Linked DNA regions of Homo sapiens: all the other regions are linked to region 1. Evidence: fine-mapped expression QTL. A gene starts in region 1. Each other region holds a variant in brackets. All regions are shown on one strand. Distances are between the middles of the regions. Region 1 holds the start of SPG21 (SPG21 abhydrolase domain containing, maspardin). Region 2 overlaps ANKDD1A (ankyrin repeat and death domain containing 1A). Region 3 overlaps SPG21 (SPG21 abhydrolase domain containing, maspardin). Region 4 holds the start of KBTBD13 (kelch repeat and BTB domain containing 13).

What was found. PIP is the estimated chance that this variant, and not a neighbour inherited with it, causes the effect. A credible set is the group of variants that fine-mapping cannot tell apart.
Region 2: its variant is the best candidate, but not a certain one, in a credible set for the expression of SPG21 in monocytes (BLUEPRINT, PIP 0.85).
Region 3: its variant is the best candidate, but not a certain one, in a credible set for the expression of SPG21 in sun-exposed skin (GTEx, PIP 0.62).
Region 4: its variant is the best candidate, but not a certain one, in a credible set for the expression of SPG21 in whole blood (INTERVAL, PIP 0.68).

Annotation. Positions count from the first base shown.
Region 1 is chr15:64,986,913-64,991,912 of GRCh38, forward strand. It overlaps SPG21 (SPG21 abhydrolase domain containing, maspardin), which reads right to left and starts at 3,002. Exons shown (of 9, transcript NM_016630.7): 1 at 2,753-3,002. RefSeq lists enhancers at 2,209-2,710, 2,711-3,210, 3,266-3,335, 3,376-3,435 and silencers at 2,439-2,733, 2,536-2,585, 2,706-3,195.
Region 2 is chr15:64,954,055-64,961,594 of GRCh38, forward strand. It overlaps ANKDD1A (ankyrin repeat and death domain containing 1A), which reads left to right. Exons shown (of 15, transcript NM_182703.6): 15 at 3,049-4,637. The coding sequence ends at 3,134. Among named protein-coding and RNA genes, the nearest start is that of SPG21, 32 kb to the right of the region's middle. The variant AAAAC/A (reference allele first, on the strand shown) is at 2,499.
Region 3 is chr15:64,965,783-64,974,155 of GRCh38, forward strand. It overlaps SPG21 (SPG21 abhydrolase domain containing, maspardin), which reads right to left. Exons shown (of 9, transcript NM_016630.7): 6 at 4,332-4,440; 7 at 3,473-3,580. Among named protein-coding and RNA genes, the nearest start is that of SPG21, 20 kb to the right of the region's middle. The variant T/C (reference allele first, on the strand shown) is at 3,382.
Region 4 is chr15:65,074,779-65,083,151 of GRCh38, forward strand. It overlaps KBTBD13 (kelch repeat and BTB domain containing 13), which reads left to right and starts at 1,968. Exons shown (of 1, transcript NM_001101362.3): 1 at 1,968-5,170. The coding sequence starts at 2,038. The coding sequence ends at 3,414. It also overlaps a transcript of RASL12 not described here. The variant TAATAA/T (reference allele first, on the strand shown) is at 3,955.

The DNA.
Region 1 (5,000 bases):
ACAATCTATTCTAAAGGAGGGAAAATAAAAACATGTTTAGCAAATAACATCTACTCAATAGATTTATAAAACACCTTAGCTAACTAAAGCCAGAAAGTGTGCTTCTAGAGTCACCAAATGGGATAAATCATTCATAGCTTTGAAATCAGTTGCAATGCACAAACCAAACCACCATACAAATACACACATACACAGGCACACATATTCACGCGGTCATCCTCTTCTTTCCCATAGCAGTAAATAGAAAGATGTTCCTTACCAACAGTCTTCAGAATAATTCACAACCACCTCAGGATGCCAACGTGTTAAAAGTAATCTTACAAGATGGAGAGATTCCACTCCGCTGTGACTAAATTTTTGTAGAGACAAGTAATTTTAACACTTGTGCTAGTTTGGCAGTACATGAAAGGTAAAATGGATACCAAATGTTGCATCTGACCAACTGACGTCTAAGTGAAAAAAAGATCACTGCTGCAAAGGGAAAACAGCTGTGAGTGGTATGAATAGGAAAGTTTGTTCTCCTAGCTCTCTTTCATCCACCAAAGGGGTATACTTTTCCAAATCATAAGAGGAATATTCTGTATATGGCAAAGGTTAACTGAGATTGTGACCAAACTGGTCAGTACTGAATAAGAAAGAATGTGGACCATGAGCTCAAAACTGATTTTATCTCTCATGATTTTGTTCTTCACAAAAACAAAAGCACCTGTTCATGCTGGTGGGAAAAGAGCCACAATATTAGCCTTAATCTTGCCTAAGGAAAGCCCTCTTCAGGGTGTGCTGTGGACTCCCTGTCTTCTCTGGCCCTTGTGCTGCTGGACAATAAAAACTGCCAGTTGTGGCTGGGTGCAGTGGCTCACGCCTATAATCCCAGCACTTTGGGAGGCTGAGGCAGGTGGATCACCTGAGGTCAGGAGTTCGAGACCAGCCTGGCCAACATGGTGCAGCCCCGTCTCTACTAAAAATACAAAATTAGCTAGGCGTGGTGGCACATGCCTGTAATCCCAGCTACGCAGGAAGCTGAGGCAGAAGAATCACTTGAACCCGGGAGGCAGAGGTTGCGGTGAGCCGAGATCACGCCATTGCACTCCAGCCTGGGCAACGAGAGCGAAACTCCATCTCAAAAAAACAAACAAAACAGCAACAACAACAAAAACAAATTAGCTGGGCGCGGTGATGGGCTCCTGTAATCCCAGCTACTTAGGAGGCTGAGGCAGGAGAATTGCTTGAACCTGGGTGGCGGAGGTTGCAGTGAGCTGAGATCACACCACTGCACTCCAGCCTGGGCGACAGAGTGAGACTCTGTCTCAAAAAACAAACAAACAAACAAACAAAAAAACCTGCCAGTTGTGACTATGCCCCTATCCCTCATGGCTTCAACAGAACCTGCCACTTTAAAGTCAACAAAATCACCTTTATCAATGTTTAAGTCACATAACCAGCATAATTAGTCAGAGGTTTCTGCTACTTTATTTCAATCTATAGTTGATGTGCATTGTGGAAAATCTGTGCTTATAAATACTAGCCATAACAAAATATTAGAAGCTGAGAGTCTCTGGGAGATGCAACTGGCTTTTTAATGCACGTCTCCATCCCTCACCACAGAAGTACACAGCTATCCTTTTCTTAGATCTCTTCAGGGGAGATCTATCCCTCTTTTCTTCATTGCATTATCTCTAAACCTTACAGGAGGAAAAGGTGCCTACCTGACATCTGTGACATCTCTTCTCATGCTCTTGGGAAAAAAGCTTTTGGAATTTGGACACAGCTATTAAGTTACTCCTCAGTGGCCAGCCGCGATGGCTCACGCCTGTAATCTCAGCCCTTTGGGAGGCCGAGGCGGGCGGATCACGAGGTCAGGAGATCGAGGCCATCCTGGCTAACACGGTGAAACCCCGTCTCTACTAAAAATACAAAAAATTAGCCGGGCGTGGTGGCGGGAGCCTGTAGTGCCAGCTACTCGGGAGGCTGAGGCAGGAGAATGGCGTAAACCCAGCAGACAGAGCTTGCAGTGAGCTGGGATGGCGCCACTGCACTCCAGCCTGGGCGACGGAGCGAGACTCCGTCTCAAAAAAAAAAAAAAAAAAAAAGTTACTCCTTAATTTGTTGAATCTTTGTGCCAAAAGGAGCTGAACCAGTGTAGGTGGAGACAAAGGAAGCAGCATAAATGTCTAACTTATAACTCCCCAGGAAAACGAGAAGAGGAAAAATGAGACACTCCGGTCCCGCTCTGTTCCTCATCCCCCGTTTACAAACCTTACACCTGGCCCACACTCAGTAACAACAAAGACATCTATCACTTTCAGGCCGAGGTCCTGTCTCCAAAATTACTGGCCTCTGCTCACAGTTCTTAAAAGTTTGCTGAGAAAAAAAAAAAGAAAGAAAGAAAGAAAGAAATGTTCCTGGGCTGCAGTCGTGTAGCCCCAGGATGGGTTTACAGGAGGATGCCCCGGTTAAGCCCTGTGCCGCCCCCACCTCCCGCTGGAGACTCACACACAGCTCCCCGCCAGTCCCACCGGTGACAGCCACACAAAGGCAGGGTCACAAGCACACCGACCACCCCACAGCCCAGATTCGGCCCCAGACACACACTCACAAGGGCACGTGATCACGTGCGTGGTCACATGGACCGGCCCACTCAGAACACACTCACAAAGTCACACCAACCAAGGCAGCCACGCGCCACACACACACACCTACAACCCCGCATACCGCACACCCAGCCGCTTCCCAGGGCTTCGCCCACCCTCACCTGCCGTGGCCGCCCCCACGTCCCTTCCCCTCCTTCAGGAGGCCGCTCTTCGCTCCAGTACGAGCGCGGGCCGTGGAGGCGGCTGGGCCCGGGTCGGGGCGGGCGGCGGAGCACTCGGGACCCACGGGCACAGCAGGCTGCGCGGTGCGTGCGGGAGGCCGGCCTCTGAGGGGGCGGGGCGCGTGGCCGAGCGAGCTTGGGCCGCCGCGCTCCCCCCGCCCGACCGCCGCTCAGCTGGCGCGAGACTCCCGCTTCCGGGTTCTCAGAGGGCGGGGCCACGTCGCGAGGAAGGGGCGGTGCTGCGTGGCCCCGGCGGTCGCCACGGCGACGGGCGCGGGGGGAGGCTCCGTGGGATGCTTGGCTGCGGCTGGCGTGAGGAGAGGGCTGAGTTACGTCTGGGTCAGCCTTAGTTCTGCCCTACGTACCTAGGAGGAGGAGGAGGTGGAGGAGGCGCCTGGCCCCTTGGGACCTGCTTCTTCTTTCAGTTCGCGTTTTCTCTGTCGTGTACAGCTTTGGAGGGACACCTTTGGGTTCCAGACTTTGATGAACACAACTTTGTATACTCTTTTCTTAGGAACATTTTTTTTCCTTTGGCACAACCGTAGACGCTCTCCGTAGTCCTCCACTCAAAGCCTCCGCTTCCTTTTTGACGTTCTGGGGATTTCTGGGAACATACGCCCACCCATCTTCCTGTTCCTTCATCACTTTTCCCTTAAAATCAGAGAGAATATTAATACATTTGTAATCATTGTTCTTAAGGTGTTGCAGACGTCACGTCTTAAGGTGTTCCAGACTTCACGACTCCTTTTTTATTAGTAAAATATTTCTGAAATTATGATAAGGTGAATAACATGTAAATCTCCTTGTTTTGAATTTTTTTTTTAGGGATCCTGCAACAAGGTCCTGTTGAAAGTGCCTCTCTCTAATATGTTTTAGGGAAAGCTTGTACCCTGTTTTAGGGCCTGTAGACTTTGCCTTTACCTAGGCAACTGTTTATGGGATTAAGGTCAGGGAAGATTCCAACTAAATTGCATCCTACTTAGTTATCACTTCTGTCCCCTGGCCCAGGAGCCTTGGGTTCCACTCTAGAACTTGGACAAATCCCAAAAGCATTTTCCAAAAGCACGGTGACATACTTACCTTTTTCTTTCTTTCTTTTTTTCTCTAAATCATTTCTTTCGGGGTTGCAACTCAGTCGCAGGAATTCATCTTTTATTGTAAGCACCACATAGATGTATAGAGCACGTTTCCGTGGAGTATTTTAAGTTGGGGGCCTTTTCTCCAACATTTGGAATCGTTTAATGGGTGGAATAACTTGCAAACTACTGGTTGTCTCTGAAACTGGTTATGGATATTCATTACATTAGTTGTCTATTTTCCCAGGTGGTCTCGAAGCTTCAATCTAGAGCAAAGGGAATAGAGTGATTCCACCAGTCCATTAGCACATGATTAGCCCATAAATAATAGGTACTAAATGTATATTGATTGTAATCCCAGCACTTTGGGAGGCCAAGGTGGACGGATCGCTTGATTGAGCCCAGGAGTTCGAGACTAGCCTGGGCAACCTGGGAGACCCTGTCTGTACAAAAAAATACAAAAATTAGCCGGGCGTGGTGGCGCATGCCTGTAATCCCCGCTACTCAGGAGGCTGAGATGGGAGAATCTGTTAAGCCCAGATGTCGAATCCACTGCACCACATCCTAGGTGACAAAGCGAGAGACCTTGTCTGCTCCCAACAAAAAACTATATTGAATGAATTAATGAGTGGAATAAATAAATCTATCCCCATTTCCACATTTGTTCCTAAAGCTGTATTCCTTAGACCCCATCCCTAGACCCCATTTAGTAACAGCTTTAATGAGACCTAATCTATGGATATACCCGTATGTTAAAAGTCATTGTTCTGTTAGTGTGGTAGTAAACTTTGACAATTGACAATAAAAAAAAATCACTATGTAGATATGTTTTGTTACATATCAACTTTTATTACAATGTAGACCAATCCAAAAATAATAAATGTTTTACTTCTTTCAGGAAGGGAAACCATGGTCATGTTTGTGTCCTCAGTTGTTCCATAACACATGGCAAGCACATTGTCCCTTTCCTAATCCCAACAAAGAACATTTAATATCTGTGAATTCCAGCTGAATTGTAATGCACAAATTCAGGCAGCAAACTTTTGATTCAGGCAGGTCCCAGTGCAGGCTGACCTGGTAGACATGGCTGTAAGGATTTGCAGCTGTTGTGG
Region 2 (7,540 bases), 32 kb before region 1:
CCTTCTTCTTTCTTCTTCCTCTTTTCTTCTTCTTTCTCCTCCCTCTTTTCTTCTTCCTTTCTTTTCTCCTTTCTTCTTCCTCTTTCTTCTTGTTCCTTATTATTCTTTCTTCTTTCTTTTCTTCTTCTTCTCCTTCTTTCTTGTTCCTTATTCTTTTCTTCTTCTTCTTCTTCCTCTCCTTCGTCTTCTTAGTTCTTTCTTCTTCTCCTTCTTTTCCTTTCTTCTTCCTTCTTAGTTCTCCTTTTCTTCTCCTTCTCTTCCTTCTTAGTTCTTCCTTCTTCTTCCTCCTCTCCTTCTTCTCTTCTTCTCCTTCTTCTTCCTTTTCTTTTCTTCTTCTTTCTTCTTCCTTCCTCTTCTTCCTCCTCTCCTCCTTCGTTCGTCGTCTTCTCCTTCTTCTTCTTCCCTCTTCTCCTTCTTCCTCTTTTTCTTCTTCCTTCTCCTTCTTCTTCCTTCTTCTCCTCTTTCTTCTCCTTCTTCCTCCTTCTCCTTCTTCTTTTCTTCTTCCTTCTCCTTGTTCTCCTTCTTCCTTATTCTTCCTTCTTCTCCTTCTTCCTCCTCCTTCCTCTTTTCTTCTTCCTTTTCTTCTTCCTTCTTCTTCTCCTTCTTTCTTCTTGTCTCTTCTTCTTCTCTCCTTCTCCTTGTTCTTCTCCTTCTTCTTCTCCTTCTCCTCCTCCTTCTTCTTCCTTCTCCTTCTTCTTTCTTTTTGTTCTTCTTTCTTCTTCTCCTTCTTCCTTCTCCTTAGTTGTTCTTCTTCCTTGTTCTTCTCCTTCTTTTTGTTGTTCTTTCTTCTTCCTTCTTCTTCTTTCTTCTCCTTTTCTTCTTCCTTCTCCTCCTCCTTCTTCCTTCTTCTCTTGTCTCTTCTCTCTCCTTCTTCTCCTTCTTCTTGTCTCTTCTTCTCTCTCCTTCTTCTTCTCCTTGTTCTTCTCCTGCTTCTCCTCTTCCTCTTTCCTTCTTCTTCCACTTCTTCTTCTTCCTCTTCTTCTTCTTTCTTTCTTTCTTCTTCTTTTCTCTTTTTTTTGATATGGAGTCTTACTCTGTTGCCAGGCTGGAGTGCAGTGGCGCAATCTTGGCTCACTGCAACCTCCACCTCCCAGGTTCACGCCATTCTCCTGCCTCAGCCTCCTGAGTAGCTGGGACTACAGGTGCCTGCCACCACACCCAGCTAATGTTTTGTATTTTCAGTAGAGACGGGGTTTCACTGTGTTAGCCAGGATGGTCTTGATCTCCTGACCTCGTGATCTTCCCCAGGGATGGGGTGTTCCATCTTCTGCCCTGTCCGGCAGAGTAGCTGCTTGCCACCTGAGGCTGTCATGCACCTGAAATGTTGGCTAGAGGGACTGAGAAGCTGAAATTTCTTATTTCTCATTATTTGAAATTGCAGGCACCCATAGCAAGTGGCATCCATGGTGCTTGGCTTTGAGGTGCCAGGCAAGCACAGCTTGTTCTGGGGCTTGGCTGTACCAGCAGGGGGATGTGTTTCTGGGGAATTGTGGCTCTGGAAGCTTCACGGTTTCCCAGAATGTGGAAAATATATCTGTGCAGGATAGAAATCCTGCCCAGAGGCTGTTTCTGTCTCATTTGAGCTCTCCTTCATGTGGCAGAGCTGGCTGTGGCGTTTAGGAGCCTACATTTTAGAAAAGCTTACCTCAAAGTTCTGCATTGAGCCTGAGACTGGAAAGGAGATAAAATAAAACAGCTGACAGGAGCTTTGGTAGTCACACATGCCTGATGGGGTGCACAGGGCCACAGTCTCTGAAAGGCAATTTGGCATTGTCTGTCCACAATATACTTTTATCCATTGGTCCAGCAATCCTACTCTAGGAATTTTTCCTACATATAAACCTGTATGCATACAAAATGATAGACATACAAGGTTATTACTCTGAAAAAGCAAAAGATTGGAAACAAACCAAGTGACTGGCTACAGGGGACTGGTGAAATAGAGTATGTTCCATCCACACAGTGGAATTCTGTTCAGCAGTGAAAAAAGGATGAGAGTGCTTTCCAAGTGTTGTTATGGAAAGAGCTCCAGGATAAATTAAGTGGAAAAAAACCCCAAGATACAGGTACATTAAACCGAAGGAAATTGGTTCAGAGGATAGCTGCACCATTTTTAGAGAAAAAGCTTCCTTTCTCTCTTCACCTTTTGCAGGTGATGTATTTTTTTCTTTGGATTCCTTTTTTTTTTCTTTTTTTTTGAAACAGTTTAGCTTGGCCGGGCGCAGTGGCTCATGCCTGTAATCCCAGCACTTTGGGAGGGCAAGGCGGGCAGATCACGAGGTCAGGAGATCGAGACCATCCTGGCTAACACAGTGAAACCCTGTCTCTACTAAAAATACAAAAAATTAGCCAGGCATGGTGGCGGGCACCTGTAGTCAGTCGCAGCTACCTGGGAGGCTGAGGTAGGAGAATGGCATGAACCCGGGAGACAGAGCTTGCAGTGAGCCGAGACTGTGCCACTGCACTCCAGCCTGGGCGACAGAGCAAGACTCTGTCTC[AAAAC/A]AAACAAACAAAAAAAGAGACAGAGTTTCACGCTTGTTGCCCTGTCTGGAATGCAGTGGTGTGATCTTGGCTCACTGCAACCTCCGTCTCTTGGGTTCAAGCAATTCTCCTGCCTCAGTCTCCGGAGTAGCTGGGATTACAAGCACACACCATCATGCCCGGCTAATTTTTGTATTTTTAGTAGACAGGTTTCACCATGTTGGTGAGGCTGGTCTTGAACTCCTGACCTAAGGTGACCCATCCACCTCAGCCTCCCAAAGTGCTGGGACTACAGGCATGAGCCACGGAGCCCAGCCATTTTTGGATTCTTAAAACTTAAGAAAAATTCTAAAACATATTTGTGATCTATTACGTTATGATATATGATAGGGAAAAAATAGACAACTTTACCTACCACTAAGTTATATTTAATCAGCATTCTTTTGTTTCCTAACATATATGTTGCGAGCTAAATGTATGCTCTTACTCTAAATCTTTCTGAGCTACACTTTAAGGGTGATAATTGTTTTGTTTTGTTTTTTGAGACAGTCTTGCTCTCTCACCCAGGCTGGAGTACAATGGCGAGATCTCAGCTCACGGCAACCTCCGCCTCCCGGGTTCAAATGATTCTTGTGCCTCAGCCTCCCGAGTAGCTGGGATTACAGGTGCATGCCATCACAGCTGGCTAATTTTTGTATTTTTAGTAGAGATGGGGTTTGGCCATGATGGCCAGGCTGGAAAATTGAAACATAATTTCACAATTATTCCTTTTTCCACCTTAAATAATAAGAGTAGAATACTTTCTGTGTTTTTATCTTATACACATGAATAAATGCTATGGCTTATCACAGTTACAATGTGTTTTCTGAAAGTAAAGATTATTTTACCTTGAAATTACAAAAATTATTTTCAGTTTTCCAAAATTCTATCTTTAAACCTAAATAATTCAATTTCATGGATGCACAAATGTTTATTGAGAGTCTCATATTCATGCTTTTCTTCACAGCACTATAAAGTTGGACTTGGAAAATTTGGACAGCCATTTGCCATTGTAATTTTTATTCTTTTTTCTCCTGATTATTTGACAAAACTTGTATCCACATTGTAGCTGTTCATGTGTCTGCTTCTATTGCATATTGTAAAATTATTAACTACTTCCCAAAATAGTATTTCTCTCAGCAGATATTTCTTTGGTACTACCATGTATTGTGTAACTTTTGGGAAAGTAAGGTGGCTTCCCTGCTCTCAGTGAAGCATTTTATTAAAAGAATAATTATAATTAAAAAAACACGATACAGATCAGTGCATATAGTATATTACTAATAGTATGCTGTTAATTGTGTAAGAAAGAAAGGAAATTAGAAAACATATTTGCATAAATAAAAGCTAGACAAAGGCTAAGAAACTAATCAGGTGGTTTCCCTGGGGTAGTAGGATAATGGGGAACAGTGGGGCTGGGACCGGGTGGGAGAAAGAGTTCTCAGTGGTTCCTTTCTATACAGTTTTAACTTTTGAAATGTGTGAGAGTGTTACTTACTGAAAACTGAAAGGATATGACATGCTGGAACAGGCAAAACTACAAAGACAGTAAAAAGATCAGTGATTTCCAGGAGCTGCAAGGGCAGTGAGAGGAAGGGAGGGATGAGGAGGTGGAGCGCAGGGGATGTTAGGGCAGTGAAAGGTTCTGTATGACACTGTGATGGTGGGTACATGACATTGGGCATTGGTCAAAACCCATAGCATGTACAGCACAAAGCGTTTGCTCTAATGTGAGCTATGGACTTTAGTTAATAGTAACGTGTCAATATTGGTTCATCAGTTGTATCAAATGTACCACACTGATGCCAGATGTTAATAATCGGGGAAACTGTGTGTGCTGAAGAGTACGTGGGAGCTCTCTGTGCTATCTGCTCAATTTTTCTCTAAACCTAAAACTGTTCTAAAATAGAAAGTCTGTGAAAAAAAACAAAAGTAAAGTTATAAAAGGAAAAGAAAACAGAGGCTTTAAATTAAATCATCTATTCCTTGGGAAAGGTATTTTGTACCATATGGGACTGAAATCATTTATCTGGATGAATTTTATAAAATGAATTTTGTAATTTTTTTCTGAGAAAAAAAAGTTCTTAAATACAATAAAATTGAAATGTTGAAATATATCTCTCAAATCCAGTACTCATATCTTTTCTTTGGGAAATACAGGGTGAAATTCCAGGTCAGACAAGCTGTCACAGATTGGTGCTATGTAAGCACAATGGCTCAACTCACGGACAGTGAATACTTCCTGAGTGGATTTTGTGCCAGGTGGCCTGCCAGGAGTGGGTACAGAGATGAGAGCCCACAGTTCCCTCCCCTTCCCCAAGCTTAGGGTCTAGTAGGGGAGAAAGGCTTGCACACCAATAACTGTAATAAGGTGCAGTCCACGCTGTAATGGATGGGTGCAAACAACTATGGGACTCCTTCCTGGGGGAAGGAAGAAAGGAAGGGGAGGAAGCAGCTCACAGAGGAGACAGAAGTGGGGAAAAGGGCAGTCCAAGCCAACAGCACAGCCTAAGCAATAGCCCAGAGGTGTGGAGAGGGACCCCCCACCTTGGGGAGTAGCGTGGCTGGAGCACAGGATGCGTGGAAGGAGGGGGAGCTGTGACCTGAGGGGCAGGAGGGGGAGGGGTGCAGATGCATTGGAAATTGTTCCCCACCCCATCACCAAAAATTAGATGTCTCATAAAGTAGAAACTGAACAGAATAGACTCCGCCTTTGGAAATGCACATCTGCTTGTCCTTTCAGAGTCTACTTTACCTTGCTAATTGTGACTCTCCTTGTTTCTAAAATGTATATTTAAATCACTTTTCCAATGGATATTTACTTACAGTTACTCCCTCCCTTTTCTTTGAGACGGAGTCTTCCTCTGTTGCCAGGCTGGCGTGCAGTGGTGCGATCTCGGCTTACTGCAGCCTCCGACTCCCTGGTTCAAGCGATTCTCCTCTTCAGCCTCCCAAGTAGATGGAATTACAGGCACATGCCACCACGCCCAGCTAATTTTTTTTTGTATTTTTAGTAGCGATGGGGTTTCAACATGTTGGCCAGGATGGTCTTGATCTCCTGACCTCGTGATCTGCCTGGGTTGGCCTTCCAAAGTGCTGGGATTGCAGGCGTGAGCCACTGTGCCTGGCCCCTTTTTAAGATATATACTGTACTTAAAACTATTCACATATAGTCTGCAGGTTTATATACTTAAAAAGTGCGAAGTCTTTCTCCTGTGGATCCCAAGATAACTTCTAGAAGCGGGTACAGGCCCTGGATCACATCATGTATCAAAATGAACCCATAAAACTCCCAGGTTAAGAACTGAGGTGAAGGAGTCCCTGGCTCTTAGTGGAGGTTGCTCCCCGCATCTCTTCCTGTGTGCAGAGCTTCACTAAATGGTTACAGCCCCACTTCAGAGTTTCTGAAACTAGTCTGATTTCCACAACAGAGGTCCCTTAGTGTTCATGCACTGGCAAGTGACAAGATCAGACCTGTGTGTGGACCACACAGAGGATGGGTGGGGGTGGGAGGAGATGGCTGGTGGAGCCAGTGAGGACTGTAGTAGTCTGGGCAAAAGATGCCAAGGCCTAACTTGTAGTGAGGAAGGCTCAAGTTTGCAGGCAAGTTGCTAGATCTCTGAGAGTCAGGGGATATAGGTGTAGTAGATGTGGAAATGCATTGCCCGGACCCCCTTCTTCCAGGAAGGCCTTTCCATCCAGCTGCAGGAGTGAGCTGGGCAGATGGCCTCCAGCTGTCAGCCCTTCAGGGTCTGCCTCAGCTGCAGAGAGTTGCCCCACCCAACACCCTGCCCTCCCCAGGGCAGCTGCCTCTGGGAACTGAGCTACGCGGGAGCATAGAGACCCAGCCATTTTAGTCCTCCATGAAAATATTCCAGTGGGTGCTTCAAGCTCCTGCGTGCCCTACTGAGTTGGTGGGTACTTGATCGGGCCTGCATCACAGTTCAATTTCGCTCTCTGCCCAATCCATCTTCCCTTCACAGATGTTGTTTTTTTGTTTTGTTTTGGAGATTGAGTCTCACTCTGTTGCTCAGGCTGGAGTGCAGTGACACCATCTCAGCTCACCGTAACCTCTGCCACTCTGGTTCAAGTGATTGTCCTGCTTCAGCCTCCTGAGTAGCTGGGATTACAGGCACGTGCCGCCAGGTCTGGCTAATTTTTTTGTATTTTTAGTAGAGACTGGGTTTCTCCATGTTGGCCTGGCTGGTCTTGAACTCCTGACCTCAGGTGATCCACTCCCCTTGGCCTCCCAAAGTACTGGGATTACAGGTGTGAGCCACCACACCAGGCCACAGATGTTGATCCTTAATAAACATCTTGCACCCAAATTTTCATCTCTGCATCCGCTTCAGCCTGAGACATGGGGGTGGAGGAGTGAGTGGGGGTGGAGGGTCCAAGATGGCTGAGTTTCTAACTGGGGATTCCAAGAAATAGTGATGCCAGGACCTAAGAAAATGGGGCTAGAAGAGGAAGGGCAGGTTTGGGCAGTGGGGCCATGGGCATAGCTTTTGACTGGTTGCCTGTCGAAGGCTGAGATGCCTGTTGAAGGCTGGCCTAATAGGCCTGAGTACGCATTCAAGGCCAGTACTCAAAATTGATCAGGGCTGGCAATGACAACTTGCAGTCATCAGGGGGCAGAGCTGGGGAGTAGTTAAAGTTGTTAGACGGCTCTAGTAGCCTCAGACGCTACTAGTTAAAATGTCAAGCTTCGCCCTTATGGTTTACCAAGTGTTTCCATAACTCATGACTGTTGTCAAGCCACAGATAGAGAAGACAATGTGGCCCCTTTGTGGAAAGATCACTGGCTTTAGGGATGGTCAGATTCAAGGTGGCATCCCAGCTCCACCCCTTACTGCCTGACCCAGTCTCCAGGTCCTCACCTGTAAAGTCAGGATAATCAGGGCTGTATTGGGGATGAAGTCTAAGAAGGTATGGCCAACCCAATATTCTGAAACCTGGCACATAAAGGGAAAGAAGCACTGATGCTTATTTTTCTGTCTAAATTGTATCTCAGCGAAAC
Region 3 (8,373 bases), 19 kb before region 1:
TCTCCACCTCCTGGGCTCAAGTGATTCTCCTGCCTCAGCCTCCTAAGTACCTGGGACTACAGGCATGCGCCATCACGCCTGGCTAATTTTTGCATTTTTAGTAGAGATGGGGTTTCACCATGTTGGCCAGGCTGGTCTCAAACTCCTGACCTCAGGTGATCTGCCCACCTCGGCCTCCCAAAGTGCTGGGATTACAGGCGTGAGCCACCAAGCCCGGCTGGGGTCGGGGGAAATTCTACCATGAATTTCCTTTTTCCTCAAATATAGCTAAGTAGATTAACAGAATATTAATAGAGAACAATCATTGCAAATGTCAATAAGTTTCAAAAAGATCACGAAGCCCCAAAAGAACTTTTTACTTTTATCATTAATTTAAAGCAATAAACTAAGTCATTTAGGCTCAGTGAAAAAAATTCCAAAAAAATGTAGAGTACAAGCTATTCTTTCTTGGGGAAACCAGTTTGCAGCATATGATTCTAGACATCCTTCAATACCCATACACATTTACGTTTTTACATGCAACAAAATTTTTCAAAAAGTAAAATAAGCAAAAAAAATTGTATACTAAATATACCATACCAAATCTGTATGTTTAAGTGCATCTCCAACTAAAACTTACAGGCTGTTTTCAGTGACCATGAACCCAGGCAGTGAGCACAGCTTTGAAAGAAGGGCAGGCAGAGCAAATGTCCTGTGAGGACCATTGAAAAGCTTGTTCTATGTTATGGCAAATGTCAGAATGCAGCGATTATGGCAGAGGATGATAAGAAGTTGTTTACACGCTTATAATGAATAATTTCCCAACAAAAACCAATTATTAAAAATACCATATTATGGCCAGGTGCGGTGGCTCACACCTGTAATCCCAGCACTTTGGGAGGCTGAGGCGGGCAGATCATGAGGTCAGGAGATCGAGACCATCCTGGCTAACATGGTGAAACCCTGCCTCTACTAAAAATACAAAAAATTAGCTGGGCGTGGTGGTGGGTGCCTGTAGTCCCAGCTACTTGGGAGGCTGAGGCAGGAGAATGGCGTCAACCCAGGAGGCGGAGCTTGCAGTGAGCCAAGATCGCGCCACTGCACTCCAGCCTAGGCAACTGAGTGAGACTTTGTCTCAAAAAAACAAAAACAAAAACAAAAACAAAAAACCATATTATTTGAATTTAGGAACAAATCCATTTATAAGGCAAAATAATCATATGATTTTTTTTTAAGTAAATTGAAACCATAGTGAGATACCAATTCATATCCATTAGGATAAGTATCAACCAAAAAACCAGAAATAAGGGTCCAGGATATAGAGAAACTGGAATCTTTGTGCATTGTTGGTGGGAACATGAAATGGTATAGCCACTGTGGAAGACAGTATGGTGGTACTTCAAAAAGTGTGATTCTACTTCAAACGATATGTCCAAAAGAATTAAAAGTAGGATACATCTACTATGTACCCATAAAAATAAAAAACAAAAAATTATTTTTAAAAAATAATTTAAAAATAAATAAAAAAAAATTAAAAGCAGGAACTCAAACAAATATACATATATTTTTTGACAGGTTCTCACTCTGTTGCCCAGGCTGGAACGCAGTGGCATGATCATGGCTCACCCCAGGCTCAGGTGATCCTCCCACCTCAACCTCCCAAGTAGCTGGGATCACAGGGATGTGGCACCATGTCCAGCTAATTTTCCTTTTTTTTTTTTTCTTTTTTTTGAGACGAAGTCTCACTCTATTGGCAGGCTGGAATGCAGTGGTGCGATCTCAGCTCACTGCAACCTCCACCGCCCAGATTCAAGCAATTCTCCTGCCTCAGCCTCCCGAATAGCTGGGACTACAGGTGTGTGCCACCATGCCCGGCTAATTTTTGTATTTTCAGTAGAGACGGGTTTCACCACGTTGGCCAGGATGGTCTCGATCTCTTGACCTCATGATCCACCCGCCTTGGCCTCCCAAAGTTCTGGGATTACAGGGGTGAGCCACCGCGCCCGGCCTAATTTTCTTTATTAGTAGTAGAGACAGGGTCTCCTGTATTGCCCAGACTGGTCTCGAATTCCTGGGCTCAAGCAATCCTCTTGAGTCAGCCTCCCAAAGTGCTGGGATTGCAGGAATGAGCCACTGTGCCCTGCCCAAACATATACTTTTACACCAATGTTCATAGAAGCACTATTCACAATTGCCAAAAGCTGAACACAACCCAAGTGACCACTGACGGATGAATGGATAAACAAAATGTGGTATAAACCAACATTGGTTTTATTGGTAGATATTATTCAGCTTTAAAAAGAAATAGGCTGGGCGTGGTGGCTCATGCCTGTCATAGCACTTTGGGAGGCCCAGGCAGGCAGACAGCTTGAGTCCCAGAGTTTGAGTCCAGCATGGGCAACATGGTGAAACCCCATCTCTACAAAAAATTAGCCGAACGTAGTGGTGTGAGCCTGTGGTCCAAGCTACTAAGGAGGCTGAGGAGGGAGGATTGTTTGGGCCCGGGAGGCAGAGGTTGCAGTGAGCTGAGATTGCACCACTGCACTCCAGCCTGGGGAACAGAGTGAGACCCTGTTTCCAAAAAAAAAAAAAAAAAAAGAAAGAAATGACATTCTGACACATGTATAACATTTCAAGATAAGTCTTGTGAAACATTATGCTAAGTGAAATGGCCACACAAAAGGATAAATGTTGTATGATTCTACTTATATGAGGTTCTAGAATAGGTAAATTTTTATAGACAGAAAATAAAACCGTTGATTATCAGAGGCCGGGGGAAGAAAGGGAACAGGAGTTATTGTTTAATGGGTATGCAATTTCTTCTTGGAATGATGAAAATGTTGTGAAAATGGTGATGGTTGCCGAACTGTGAATATACTTAATGCCACTGAACTATGCACTTAAAAATGGTTAAAATGGCATATTTTAAATGTACATTTTACCACAATAAAAAAATAAGCAAGCTTTTGTGGTAATTAAACTATGGAATTCTTGATTCTCTACCCTTGTTACCCTTGTGAAGCACCTTCTCTTTGCTGCCCATATATGTGCAATATATGGTGCAATATCTATTGATGAGAACAGCAAAAATACATCAAATGGGTAGACTCCCTTGTTTAAATTTATTTTGATTCATTTTTATTTTTATTTTTTTTTAATAAATACAGACAGGGTCTCACTATGTTGCCCAGGCTGGTCCTGAACTCTTGGACTCAAGCAATCCTCCTGCCTCAGCCTCCCAAAGCGCTGGGATTACAGGCATAAGCCACTGTGCTCGGCCTATTTTGATTTCAATGGTGTTATTCCTGCCAGAAAGAAATCCAAGATAAGCAATAAACAGATTATTTTGGAATTGAGAAAGCTGGAGGGTAAAAACAAAAGCCAAGGCAGCATTTGAAGAGG[T/C]ACATTGAAAGTTATCAAATAGTTTTATAGGAGATCTTGACATACACATTTTAAAAAGTAAAGCAGCTATTTTACTTAAAAGGAAGCTTACATCCATAATAGTTACAGGTATGTCCCGAATTTTATGAGGTTCCACATAAGAATTTTGACAATTCAAGGTAAGTCTTGAAGCCAGTTCACTCTGACCCAAACTTTCTAGCTGCAGGAAGAAACACAGGTAAAGTTTTTGAAATAATTTTGTTTTTCACATTTACATTAAATCCACAGACAACATTTGTGCTTATAAAGGTGGTATCATCTGTGGTGGGGCCAGAAAAGTCATCAGTGAGGAACCACAACTTAGGTGAGAGACCATGAACTGGGCTTCTCAGGAGGTTGTGGCATTTTTCTATTCTGGAAACCTGGGTACAAACCAATGAAACCCGGCCTTCTACAGCCCTCAGCCTACACTGCCTACTCCAGCCAGGTGCCCATGGGCAGCAAGCCAATTCCTACTGCTCAAAGGTGACAGATATATGTTTTTGTTTTTTTTTTTTTTTTAAGATAAACCTTTAAGGGATCTTAAAAGAGATTTGAGAAATCATCTAGCCCAGCAGTTCCTAAATGCAAGCCAACAGACCTGGTTCATCAGATTTACCTGGTGGGTAGAGGAAAAGTGTGAAGTAAAAATAGATTCCCAGATCCCATGCCCAGGGATTCCAGATGGATGATCTGCTGTGAGGCCTTACAATCTGTATTTTTGAAAGCTCCCCTAAGTGATTTTGATGAATAGCTGGTGGGAAGCACTGATGTAGGCAAGCCCTTACCAGCAATAATATCTGCTCAGATGTATTACTCTGCTTAGCAAATACCTCTTACACATACTTGTGAGACAGATCTATCTTCTGGAACCAAGTAGATGTGAAAATTCCCAATACAATGTGTCCCCAACCCAATGTCATGATCCTTACCCTGTCTACCATGAAATCAATGGCATCAGCCATCATAGGGTCCACCGGGCCAGATGAAAAATTTCCAAGAACTATTTTTTTGAGCATAAATGCAGGCATCAGCCAAAAGCTGTAAAACACAAAGACCTTATAATTTAAACTTCCAAGACTACACATGGCAAATATTCATTCAACATTAAAGCTTTGTATTAGCTTGGGATCTAGAAATAAAAAGTCCTAATCCCCTCCTCCAAAGAGCTCAGCATCTAGTTTTTACACACACTTTCCCAAGCTTCCAAAGAGTTATGGCTTCATATAATTAAACTTTTATTTGAGGATTTAGGATAATTATAAGAGATATTTCAAAATACCTTTACTGAGATAGACATTCTGATGAGTCCAAGATTGTTTTTTTTCTCTAATTGGCCCTATTTCCAAGGATTAAACTATTTCTTTTGGAAAACTGAATATTAAGAGAAGTATTCTTTCCTTCTGGTTGATATTATGTTTTTATCGATTGATATTTCAAAACAGATTTCAAAATACCAATATGAAAGCTATTGCACCTCCCCAAATTTGCTACTATTAGATTCAACTTGGCTAATTCAAGGCAAATTGATATTTATAGATTTATTTTTTAAATTTATTATTGTTATTATTTTTTGAGACAGAGTCTCAGTCAGTTACCCATGCTGGAAGTACAGTGGCATGATCTCGGCTGGGTGCAACCTCTGCCTCCCGGGCTCAAGCAATTCTCATGCCTCAGCCTTTCGAGTAGCTGCGACTACAGGCACATGCCACCACGCCCGGCTAACTTCTGTATTTTTAGTAAAGATGAGCTTTTGCAATGTTGGCCAGACTGGTGGTGAACTCCTGGCCTCAAGTGATCCACCCACCTCAGCCTCCCACAGTGCTGGGATCACAGGCGTGAGCCACTCCTGGCCTCTTTTTATTTTTTAATTAAAAAATTTAAAAAAAAACTTTTAGAGACAGGGTCTCACTCTGTTGCCCAGGCTGAAGTGCAGTATTGTGATCATAGCTCACTGTAGCCTCAAACTCCTATCAAGTGATCCTTCTACCTTGGCCTCCCGAGTAGCTGGGACTACGGGCTCGTACCACCAGGCCTGACTAATTTTTTAAAAATTTACTGAGCTGGGGGAGCCGGGGCCAGGCACGGTGGCTCATGCCTGTAATCCCAGCACTTTGGGAGGCCAAGGTGGGCAGATCACGAGGTCAGGAGATTGAGACCATCCTGGCTAACACGGTGAAACCCCGTCTCCACTAAAAATACTAAAAATTAGCCGGGCTTGGTGGCGGGCGCCTGTAGTCCCAGCTACTCGGGAGGCTGAGGCAGGAGAATGGCGTGAACCCAGGAGATGGAGCTTGCAGTGAGCCAAGATCGTGCCATGGCACTCCAGCCTGGGCGACAGAGCCAGACTCCGTCTCCAAAAAAAAAAATTTACTGAGCCAGGCGCAATGGCTCATGCCTGTAATCCAGAACTTTGGGAGGCCAAGGTGGGTGATCACAAGGTCAGGAGTTCAAGACCAGCCTGGCCAAGATGGTGAAACCCCGTCTCTACTAAAAATACAAAAATTAGCCAGGGGCGGTGGCCAGCGCCTGTAATCCCAGCTACTTGGGAGGCTGAGGCAGGAGAATCACTTGAACCTGGGGGGCAGAGGCTGCAGTGAGAACGTGCCACTGCACTCCAGCCTGGGCAACAGAGCGAGACTCCCATCTCAAAAAAGAAAATTTTTTTTCTGTAGAGACAGGATCTTGCTCTGTTGCCCAGGCTGGTCTAGAACTCCTGGACTCAAGCAATGCTCTTACCTCTGCCTCCCAAAGTGCTGGGATTACAGGTGTGAGCCACTGTGACTGGTCAGATCTTTACGGATTTCTATATATGATCTTTAGTTTATATTTATTCCATTAATTTCAACTGTTAAGAGCCATCATGGAGGGCAAACACTAATTTCTGTAAACCTATGACGAAAATTACTTAGATGAGGTGCAAACTACCTTCTGATGCTTATTACCACTGGGACAGCCTTGCTGGAAGTTGAGCTTCCCTCAAAAGGACCACTAGGTCACCTTCCAGTTAACTTTCTAAGTTCTCTCCCAGCCCCATCACTTTCTTATCTTTTGAAGGTGATGAGGTCTAAGTACGCTCTGTAAGGGGTGGACCCTGTTGACTTTGCTCACTCCTGGATCCTCAGTGTGTGGCACACAGTAAGCACTCAGATATTTGACAATAAGCAGCTGATGTGCCAGAGCACAAACTGAATGGGGGCTGTCTTGGCATTCTAACAATTAGAACAGCAATAAAAATCACCAAAAATAATGAGCATTATTTAGTGCATTATCTGGACGGGAAGGATTTGTAAAGTAGCTAATGTATACAAGAAATTGTTGCATGAATGCTGAGTAATTACTAAGATAACATCAGAAAAACTAAAAAATAGCTGGGCACAGTGGCTCATGCCTGTAATCCCAGCACTTTGGGAGGCTGAGGCGGGCGGATCACGAGGTCAGGAGATCGAGACCATACTGGTGAACACGGTGAAACCCCGTCTCTACTAAAAACATAAAAAATTAGCCAGGCATGGTGGCGGGCGCCTGTAGTCCCAGCTATTCGGGAGGCTGAGGCAGGAGAATGGCGTGAACCTGGGAGGCAGAGCTTGCAGTGAGCTGAGATCGTGCCACTGCACTCCAGCCTGGGCGACAGAGCGAGACTCCATCTCAAAAACAAACAAACAAAAAAACAAACAACAACAAAAAAAACTAAAAAATATCAGAGTGCAATTTTAAGTAGATGTGAAAACGATATTTCCCTATACATTATTTGAAAACACTGATCATACAGATGTGTTTACTCACTGGGCTTTTTTTTTGAAGTAGGGTCTTGCTCTGTCACCCAGCCTGGAGTACAGAGGCACAGTTGTGGCTCACTGCAGCCTTGAACTCTTGGGCTCAAGCGATCCTCCTGCCTCAGCCTCCTGAGTAGCTAGGACTGCAGGTGCATACCATGATACCTGGCTAATTTATTATTATTGTTATTTGTAGAGATGGGGTCTCACTATGTTGCTCAGGCTGGTTTCAAACTCTTGGCCTGAAGTGATCCTCCTGTCTTGGCCTCCCAAAGTGTTGGGAGTACGGCATGAGCCATCACACCTGGCCACTGGGCTTTATTTTAAGGCTAGAGCCTCGCCTTGCCAGCAATGAAAGAAGTGCACAGTAAGCCAGCTGTATGGCATCATAGATACCTACCAATTACTTAAAATGATAAAATCAATGAAAGGATGGCTCCTAGGAAACAAGTACCCCACTGGCTGCACCCAAAGCATTTCCACCATTTTGTTTTTGGTTTGTTTTTTTTTTGAGATGGAGTTTCGCTCCTGTTGCCTAGGCTGGAGTGCAATGGCGTGATCTCGGCTCACCACAACCTCCGCATCCTGGGTTCAAGTGATTCTCCTGCCTCAGCCTCCTGAGTAGCTGGGATTATAGGCATGTGCCACCTTGCCCAGCTAATTTTGTATTTTTAGTAGACAGGGTTTCTCCACGTTGGTCAGGCTGGTCTCGAACTCCCGACCTCAGGTGATCCGGCCGCCTCGGCCTCCCAAAGTGCTGGGATTACAGGTGTGAGCCACCGCACCCAGCCTCATTTCCACCATTTCTATCTTTTGGAAGAACAGACTAATATCAAGGGTCATGATGTGCAGAACATCTGTTGACAGACCAAATGCTCTATTCTTTCCATTTGGAGAACATATCTCAAGGAAATAAATTGGAAAGGGAAAAAACCCAGTAATTTGTACAAAGATTTACTGTAGAATGTGATGAAGAATTGGGAAAAGCCAAATGCCTAATAAAACTATGTCAGTCAATACACGGAACTGTTTACACATAATAATAAGTGGGATAAACAGAACATGGTATTAGTTACATAGAAATACTGAATAAAAACAGCAAAAGTATATTAATGAATATTAAACAAAATTTAAAAATTTAAGGTAATAAAAAAAGCTGAATTTAGAGTTCATTCAATTCTTTCCTTTTGCAAAGGTA
Region 4 (8,373 bases), 90 kb after region 1:
ATCTCCCTAGCAGCCCTCAGTGCGCCCGCACGCTGCAGGTGCACGGTATATGGTCACTATTATTGAGAGGTGACAGCATGCTGGCAGTCCTCAGAGCCCTCGCTTGCTCTCGGCACCTCCTCTGCCTGGGCTCCCACTTTGGCGGCACTTGTGGAGCCCTTCAGCCCACCACTGCACTGTGGGAGCCCCTTTCTGGGCTGGCCAAGGCTGGAGCCCACTCCCTCAGCTTGCAGGGAGGTGTGGAGGGAGAGGCGCGAGCGGGAACCGGGGCTGCGTGTGGCGCTTGCGGGCCAGCTGGAGTTCCAGGTGGGCGTGGGCTTGGCGGGCCCCGCACTCGGAGCAGTCAGCCAGCCCTGCTGGCCCCGGGCAATGAGGGACTTTGCACCCGGGCCAGTGGCTGCGGAGGGTGTACTGGGTCCCCCAGCAATGCCAGCCCACCGGCGCTGTGCTTGATTTCTCACCGGGCCTTAGCTGCCTTCCCGCAGGGCAGGGCTCAGGACCTGCAGCCCGCCATGCCTGAGCCTCCCATCCACTCCATGGGCTCCTGTGCGGCCCGAGCCTCCCCGACGAGCACTACCCCCTGCTCCACGGTGCCCAGTCCCATCAACCACCCAAGGGCTGAGGAATGCGAGCGCATGGTGCAGGACTGGCAGGCAACTCCACCTGCAGCCCTGGTGCAGGATCCACTAGGTGAAGCCAGCTGGGCTCCTGAGTCTGGTGGGGACGTGGAGAGTCTTTATGTCTAGCTCAGGGATTGTGAATACACCAATCGGCACTCTGTATCTAGCTCAAGGTTTGTAAACACACTAATCAGCACCCTGTGTCTAGCTCAGGGTTTGTGAGTGCACCAATTGACACTCTGTATCTAGCTGCTCTGGTGGGGCCCTGGAGAACCTTTATGTCTAGCTCAGGGATTGTAAATACACCAATTGGCACTCTGTATCTAGCTCAAGGTTTGTAAACACACCAATCAGCACCCTGTGTCTAGCTCAGGGTTTGTGAGTGCACCAATCAACACTCTGTATCTAGCTGCTCTGGTGGGGCCTTGGAAAACCTTTATGTCTAGCTCAGGGATTGTAAATACACCAATCGGCACTCTGTATCTAGCTCAAGGTTTGTAAACACACCAATCAGCACCCTGAGTTTAGTTCAAGGTTTGTGAGTGCACCAGTCGACACTCTGTATCTAGCTGCTCTGGTGGGGCCTTGGAGAACCTGTATGTGGAAACTCTGTATCTAACTAATCTGATGGGGACGTGGAGAACTTTTGTATCTAGCTCAGGGATTGTAAACCCACCAATCAGCGCCCTGTCAAAACAGGCCACTTGGCTCTACCAATCAGCAGGATGTGAGTGGGGCCAGATAAGAGAATAAACGCAGGCTACCCGAGCCAGCAGTGGCAACCCGCTCATATCCCCTTCCACACTGTGGACGCTTTATTCTTTTCCTCTTTGCAATAAATCTTGCTGCTGCTCACTCTTTTGGGTCCACACTGCTTTTATGAGCTGTAACACTCACCGTGAAAGTCTGCAGCTTCACTCCTGAGGCCAGCGAGACCACAAGCCCACTGGGAGGAACGAACAACTCCAGACACGCTGCCTTAAGAGCTGTAACACTCACAGCGAAGGTCTGCAGCTTCACTCCTGAGCCAGCGAGACCATGAACCCACCAGAAGGAAGAAACTCCAAACACATCTGAACATCAGAAAGGACAGACTCCAGACACGCTACCTTAAGAGCTGTAACACTCACCTCGAGGGTCCGCGGCTTCATTCTTGAAGTCAGACCAAGAACCCACCAATTCTGGACCCATTATTACCATTTCTTCTAAGGATATGAGTGATCACACAGGTCTCCAGATGCCCTCCGGGCCTGCAGCCATACAGCCTGCGGGCCACCACATCACATGAGCCATACTATCTTTAGCCAGGGAGAGATATTTATAGCCCCCAGGGAAGTTTTTTGCTCCAGGGGAGCCCCAGAGTTGGTGGCTGGCTAACCCAAGGCCCCAGCGGCAGCCTCCGCCCGGCCAGCTCGCCATGGCACGGGGTCCACAGACCCTGGTGCAGGTGTGGGTGGGCGGCCAGCTCTTCCAAGCCGACCGCGCCCTGCTGGTGGAGCACTGTGGCTTCTTCCGAGGCCTCTTCCGCTCCGGCATGCGGGAGACCCGCGCAGCAGAGGTGCGCCTGGGCGTTCTGAGCGCGGGAGGTTTCCGCGCCACGCTGCAGGTGCTGCGCGGCGACCGGCCGGCGCTGGCGGCGGAGGACGAGCTGCTGCAGGCCGTGGAGTGCGCCGCCTTCCTCCAGGCGCCGGCGCTGGCTCGCTTTCTGGAGCACAACCTCACGTCGGACAACTGCGCATTGCTGTGCGACGCGGCCGCCGCCTTCGGCCTGCGCGACGTGTTCCACAGTGCCGCGCTCTTCATCTGCGACGGCGAGCGCGAGCTGGCGGCCGAACTGGCGCTGCCTGAGGCCCGCGCCTACGTGGCGGCCCTGCGGCCCAGCAGCTACGCGGCCGTGAGCACGCACACGCCCGCGCCCGGCTTCCTGGAGGACGCCTCGCGCACGCTGTGTTACCTGGACGAGGAAGAGGACGCGTGGCGCACGCTGGCTGCGCTGCCCCTGGAGGCCAGCACGTTGCTGGCCGGGGTGGCCACGCTGGGCAACAAGCTTTACATCGTGGGGGGCGTGCGCGGCGCCAGCAAGGAGGTGGTAGAGCTGGGCTTCTGCTACGACCCCGACGGCGGCACGTGGCACGAGTTCCCCAGCCCGCACCAGCCGCGCTATGACACAGCGCTGGCCGGCTTCGACGGCCGCCTCTACGCCATCGGCGGCGAATTCCAGAGGACGCCCATCAGCTCCGTGGAGCGCTACGACCCAGCCGCGGGCTGCTGGAGTTTCGTGGCCGACCTGCCGCAGCCGGCCGCCGGCGTGCCCTGCGCCCAGGCTTGTGGCCGTCTCTTCGTGTGCCTGTGGCGGCCGGCCGACACCACCGCCGTGGTGGAGTACGCAGTGCGGACCGACGCGTGGCTGCCAGTGGCCGAGCTGCGGCGTCCGCAGAGCTATGGCCACTGCATGGTGGCCCACCGCGACAGCCTCTATGTGGTGCGCAACGGACCTTCCGACGACTTCCTGCACTGCGCCATCGACTGTCTCAACCTGGCCACGGGCCAGTGGACGGCGCTGCCCGGCCAGTTCGTCAACAGCAAGGGAGCGCTCTTCACGGCCGTGGTGCGCGGTGACACCGTCTATACGGTCAACCGCATGTTCACGCTGCTCTACGCCATCGAGGGCGGCACCTGGCGGCTGCTCAGGGAGAAAGCCGGCTTCCCGCGGCCCGGCTCCTTGCAGACCTTTCTCCTAAGGCTGCCTCCTGGCGCTCCTGGGCCTGTGACTTCGACAACGGCAGAACTGTGACCTCTGGGCTGGCTTTAGGAGGGAGGAGACGCCGCGACTCCTCCCTGAGCTATGGCTGAGTGTGTGAGGCCGGCCTTAGAAGTAGCTGGCAACTTCCCTCTTTCTACTGAGACACCCAGGTTTGGTGCCTTCTGGTGGTGTGGACATGTTCAAGAAGCTCAGGGAGCAGTGATGATGCCCTCAAATTACTTGGGCTCTGCTGAGAGCTGGTGGGTCACAATGTCAGTGAACAGGGTAGGGGGAGTTGGGATTTGAATAATCCGGGCTTATATGTAATGGGCTAGTGATTGAGCATCGCTGGGAGCGACTTAAATGATGTTAATCAAACTGCAAGTAGTAGGCAAGAATTAGGCACCTACTGTATGCCCAATACAGTGTTATGCGTAATGAGAGCCGTAGTTGCCACACAGGGATCCAGGAAGCTTAAAGGATAACCCAGAAAACAATCTTAACAGTTACAGGACAACAAAAAGGTTTACACACAACTTGATCCACAGAGTTGAAGGCAACATGCAAAAAAATTTAAAACCGCATACAATA[TAATAA/T]AATAAAGTGCTGAAGAAATCAGGGCAAAGGGAAAATAGGAAGAGAAAAAATATATAACTCCAGAAAAGAAGAGAGTGTGCAAACTCTATGGAGGAGATGAGCAGGATACCATTAGCTGCTGAAAGGGGAGGCTTAGACCATGGAGGCTGAGAGCTCAGAAGAGAAGCAGGGTTGGGGAAGGCTGGAGCAGATGGGGAGGGTCTCTGCAAGTCCAGCCATACCAGCAGAGCAGCAGTAGTTGGGGCATCTAGAGAGGGGATGAGACTGGGCCAGCTTGCAGCAGATAATGACTGAGCTGAGCCTGGAGTGAGACCTGTGGGGGCGAGAGGATTCTTCACGTTCCTTTTTGGAACCCTTAGGGGAGCACCCAGGTGTAAGCCCTTGCCCACCCTGTTTTTGCCATCACCACGGGGCAGTGGACTGTTAACCCACATGACTTCAGGTCAGTTGAGGTATGAGCCAAATCCTGCCTCATCTTCCTCAGTTGTAGCCCCTCCTCCACATTCTACAGGTTTGTTCTCTTCCTGTCCTATTCTGCCCTTTGCAATTCCCTGGGCTGGAATGCCTAGTCTCCTCCTCTCTCCCTGTCAGTGCTCTACCATCCTCTGTGCAGCATTGGCTCACCCAGCTCTTCGTTTTCCTGACCTGGGCTGCCTGCATTGCTCATTGGACCCCTGGCTGTAACATCATTGTGTGTGCACAACCACGTGTGTGGATTGTAAGGGCAGAGATCCTGTTAAGTGAGCTGGGGGACTTCCCTGTCCCAGATTAAAATGATGATGCCTTGAAAGAACCCAGGCTACAGAGGCCACTAGTTAGGAACCTAGTGCTGACCTCTGTTGTTGGATGAGGACTCTCGTTCCTTCATCAAAATCCCCAGCTCTGGCTTCTGGGCAGATGCCTGTCCCAGCCCTTTCCAGCCTCTCCATGGCCTTGGGAAGACTTCTCTGGGTGGTTCTCATTGGTCTCCATCCCCCAGGACCTGAGGCCCATGGGGAATCTTGGCCTCGTCAGAAGTGGAGAATGCAGTGTCAGCATGACACCTCCGGGGCATGGAGGCTCGCGCCAGGGCTGCACCTAGCTGCCTCTTCTCCTGGCCTATGTCCCAACCCTGGAGAATGCTGCCCTCAGAAGCCTGGGACCTTCCAGCCCTGGAGTAGCCTAGTCTGATAAGTCTCAACAATAAACCCTGACTTTTGCATCTTGTGAATTATGTGCAAGGTACTTTCACATCTGACTTCCCCCTCCCGACCTACCTTGGGCCTGGGAGTTGGGTACCCTCTTCTTGTGGCAGAAACTGACCCACTGGCCCAAAGCCACACAGCATAGCAACAAGAGTTCCTCACTTGTAGTTCTATCAAAGTGTAATTCATTCATTCTTTTTTTTTTTTCTTTTTGACACAGGGTCTTGCTTTGTCAGTCTGGAGTACAGTGGTAAAATCATGGCTTACTGCAGCCTTAACCTCCTGGGCTCAGGTGATCCTCCTACCTTAGCCTCCCCAGTAGCTGGGACTACAGGTGCACACCACCACACCTAGCTAATTTTTATAATTTTTTTTTTGAGACAGAGTTTTGCTGTAGTTGCCCAGGCTGGGGTGCAATGGTGTGATCTCAGCTCACCCCAACCTCCACCTCCCAGGTTCAAGTGATTCTCCTGCCTCAGCCTTCCCAAGTAGCTGGGATTATAGGCATGCGCCACCAAGCCTGGCTAATTTTGTATTTTTAGTAGAGATGGGGTTTCTCCATGTGGGTCAGGGTGGTCTTGAACTCCTGACCTCAGGTGATCCGCCCACCTCGGCCTCCCAAAGTGCTGGGATTACAGGTGTGAGCCACCACGCCCGGCCAATTTTTATACAATTTTTTTGTAGAGGTGGAGTCTCACTGTGTTGCCCAGGTTGGCCTTGAACTCCTGGGCTCAAGCAATCCTCCTGCTTGGCTTCCGAAAGTTCTGGGATTACAGGCATGAGCCACTGTACCTGGCCTCAAAGTGTAATTCATATCACACATCAAAGATTTATTTAACTCACCTGTAAGAGAACCAAAAAGAATGGCAAAGCTGATTGAAAAGAGCATTTGAGAGACAGATTTGTATATTTAGTTGGAAGAGACATACTAAAATAAGTTTGCTAAGTTAGAGACAAAACTGGCATATGCCTTACAGGACAAAAGCATAATTTTTTTGGTTCTCTACTGAACAAAAATCCTTTGCATCTTTACATACATGCATGTACATATTTGTGCATATGCCTACAAGTTAGCATGTAACTTCACAAAGTCTGGGCTCTAATCTATAGTAAATTGTAAGGCAAAGGTACATTCCCCTTGAAAATTAAATAACTCTTCTCTGTTCAAAGTGTCCCAAAGTGACATTGAAAGGAAATAATCCTTCTTTTGCCTTACTTCCAAGTTACAGATAACTTTCATAACAGTACAGAGCATTTTCCTCCTTCCTCCTGACCAGTGCTGAACACCTGAGACTTGCCACATGATAATCCATCAGCTCCTAGTCTCTCTTATCCCACAGCATTGTCTGCACTTGGGGCTGCTTAGCCCCAGCCTGCTGGCTCCTGGCATTTGGTTGTTCCTCCCTTCATCCAGGGCAGCCCTTTCTGAGATGCCTTTTGTGCGTAATAATAACACAGTGTTCACAGAGAGCTTTCCCACAGTTGACTTACTTGAGCTTTTGAGAATTTTAAGTGGCAGATAGTTTGGCAACACCCCTACTCCCGCAGCTTAATGGAGGGAAAAAAGCTCAACGGTCATGTGATTAGAAGAGGCTCGTTAGGTAGTGGCAGAACCTGGCTGTGAACCCAGGGCCACAGGCTTGTCTTCTGTGCTACATGCCTGCTTGGCCGACATCCTGAGATGGACAGGGTGTTTCCAATGGTCTCCTTAACACTCCCTCCGTTTTGCCTTTCTCTATGTATCCCCACCTCTTTTGGGGGTTCGTTTGTTCCCTTGGACTCAGCCCTTTCTCTTCCCTCTTCCATAGGAAAGTTAACTAGTTCTCTTCCCTTAGGATAGACCTGGGAGACCAGTAGCCCCGTTCAGCCCAGGTAATGACTGGTTTAGGCCCTGGGGGATATTTGCACGTTCACTGATACTTCCCTCGTCTCAGGAAGTGTGGGGAAGCTTTGTAACCCAGCCCACCTTCTCTGTCTAAGGGTTCTCACAGTTAAGGCTTTGTTCCACCCACAGTCAGCATGTGTCACCACTGCCCACCACCCTCAGCAGGGATGGTGACTGTGCCTGGGGTGCCTGTGAGGAAACCAGCAGAAAGCCAGAATGGCTGGCTCACCCAGAGTCACACAGGCAGTTAAGTGGAAGAGCAGGGACTTGAACTCAGGACTTGGGATTCTCAGCCTCTCATTCCCCGGCATCTCGGCTTGACTATTGCATGAAGGTGTGGGGGGCACAAACCAGGTGCAGCTGGGCAAATTACAGAAACACTTAGGAGTTACTGAGCTCAGAGGGCTGGATTTGAAATCTCTCTGTCCCAGCCCAGAGGTTTACTCTGAGAAGTCCGTCCTTTCTGAGAGGCCTACACTCACACAGCTTAAAGCTGCAGGGATCATTTTCCTGAACCTGGTGGCAGCCCTGCAGCCCAACTCTCTGGAGTTCTCTCCAGTCTTCCACAAACGTTCTCCTTGCCCCTGACTCCAGATGTCCTGCACCCCAAGCCTTCCTCTCCCTGAAATCATCCTATGTGGTTTATATAGCCCGCCTGGCAGAGGCAGAGAAGCTGCCCCACCCCTGTCCACCAAGGACCTGCTTCCTTGCTGGCTTCCCTTCAGTGTGCTCACAGGGCAGCCAGAGCCATCCTAGTTCAACAAAATGCCAGTCAGAGCCTGGTGCGCCCCCTCTGAAAGGCAAAGTCCTTTCAGACTCTCCCACCCTGTTTCCTCCCTGACTTCATCTCCTCCCACTCCTCTCTGGCCTCATTGCTCCTCAGACGCACCAGGCACACTCCGGGCTCAGGGTGTGTGGCTGGTGTCCCTCTGCCTGCGCACTGCCTCAGCCCCACCCCACTTCCTGCAGGTCTTGGCTCAGATGTCACTTCGATCCTACAGACTCTCCTAACCTCCCTACTTAAAATCTACCTCCCCCTTCTCTACATGTTCTCCTCCCTTTTCCTGTTTTATTTTTCTGCATAGCTTTTAGCATCATCTTCCATGCTATCTTTTCACTTGTTTGCTGTTGGTTTTCTCCTACTAAAATTTGAGCTCCACGAAGGCAGAGGGTTTTTTCTGTTTTGTTCACTGCTCTCTCATCAGGACCCAGAAAAATGACTAGAACGTAGTAGGCAGCTTAAGAGATGATTTATTTAGTAGGGACTTAAGAAATATTTGTTGAATGAATGAATGGCACTCAACGGATGTTTGTTGAAAGAATGCATTAATGAATTGATCAGTC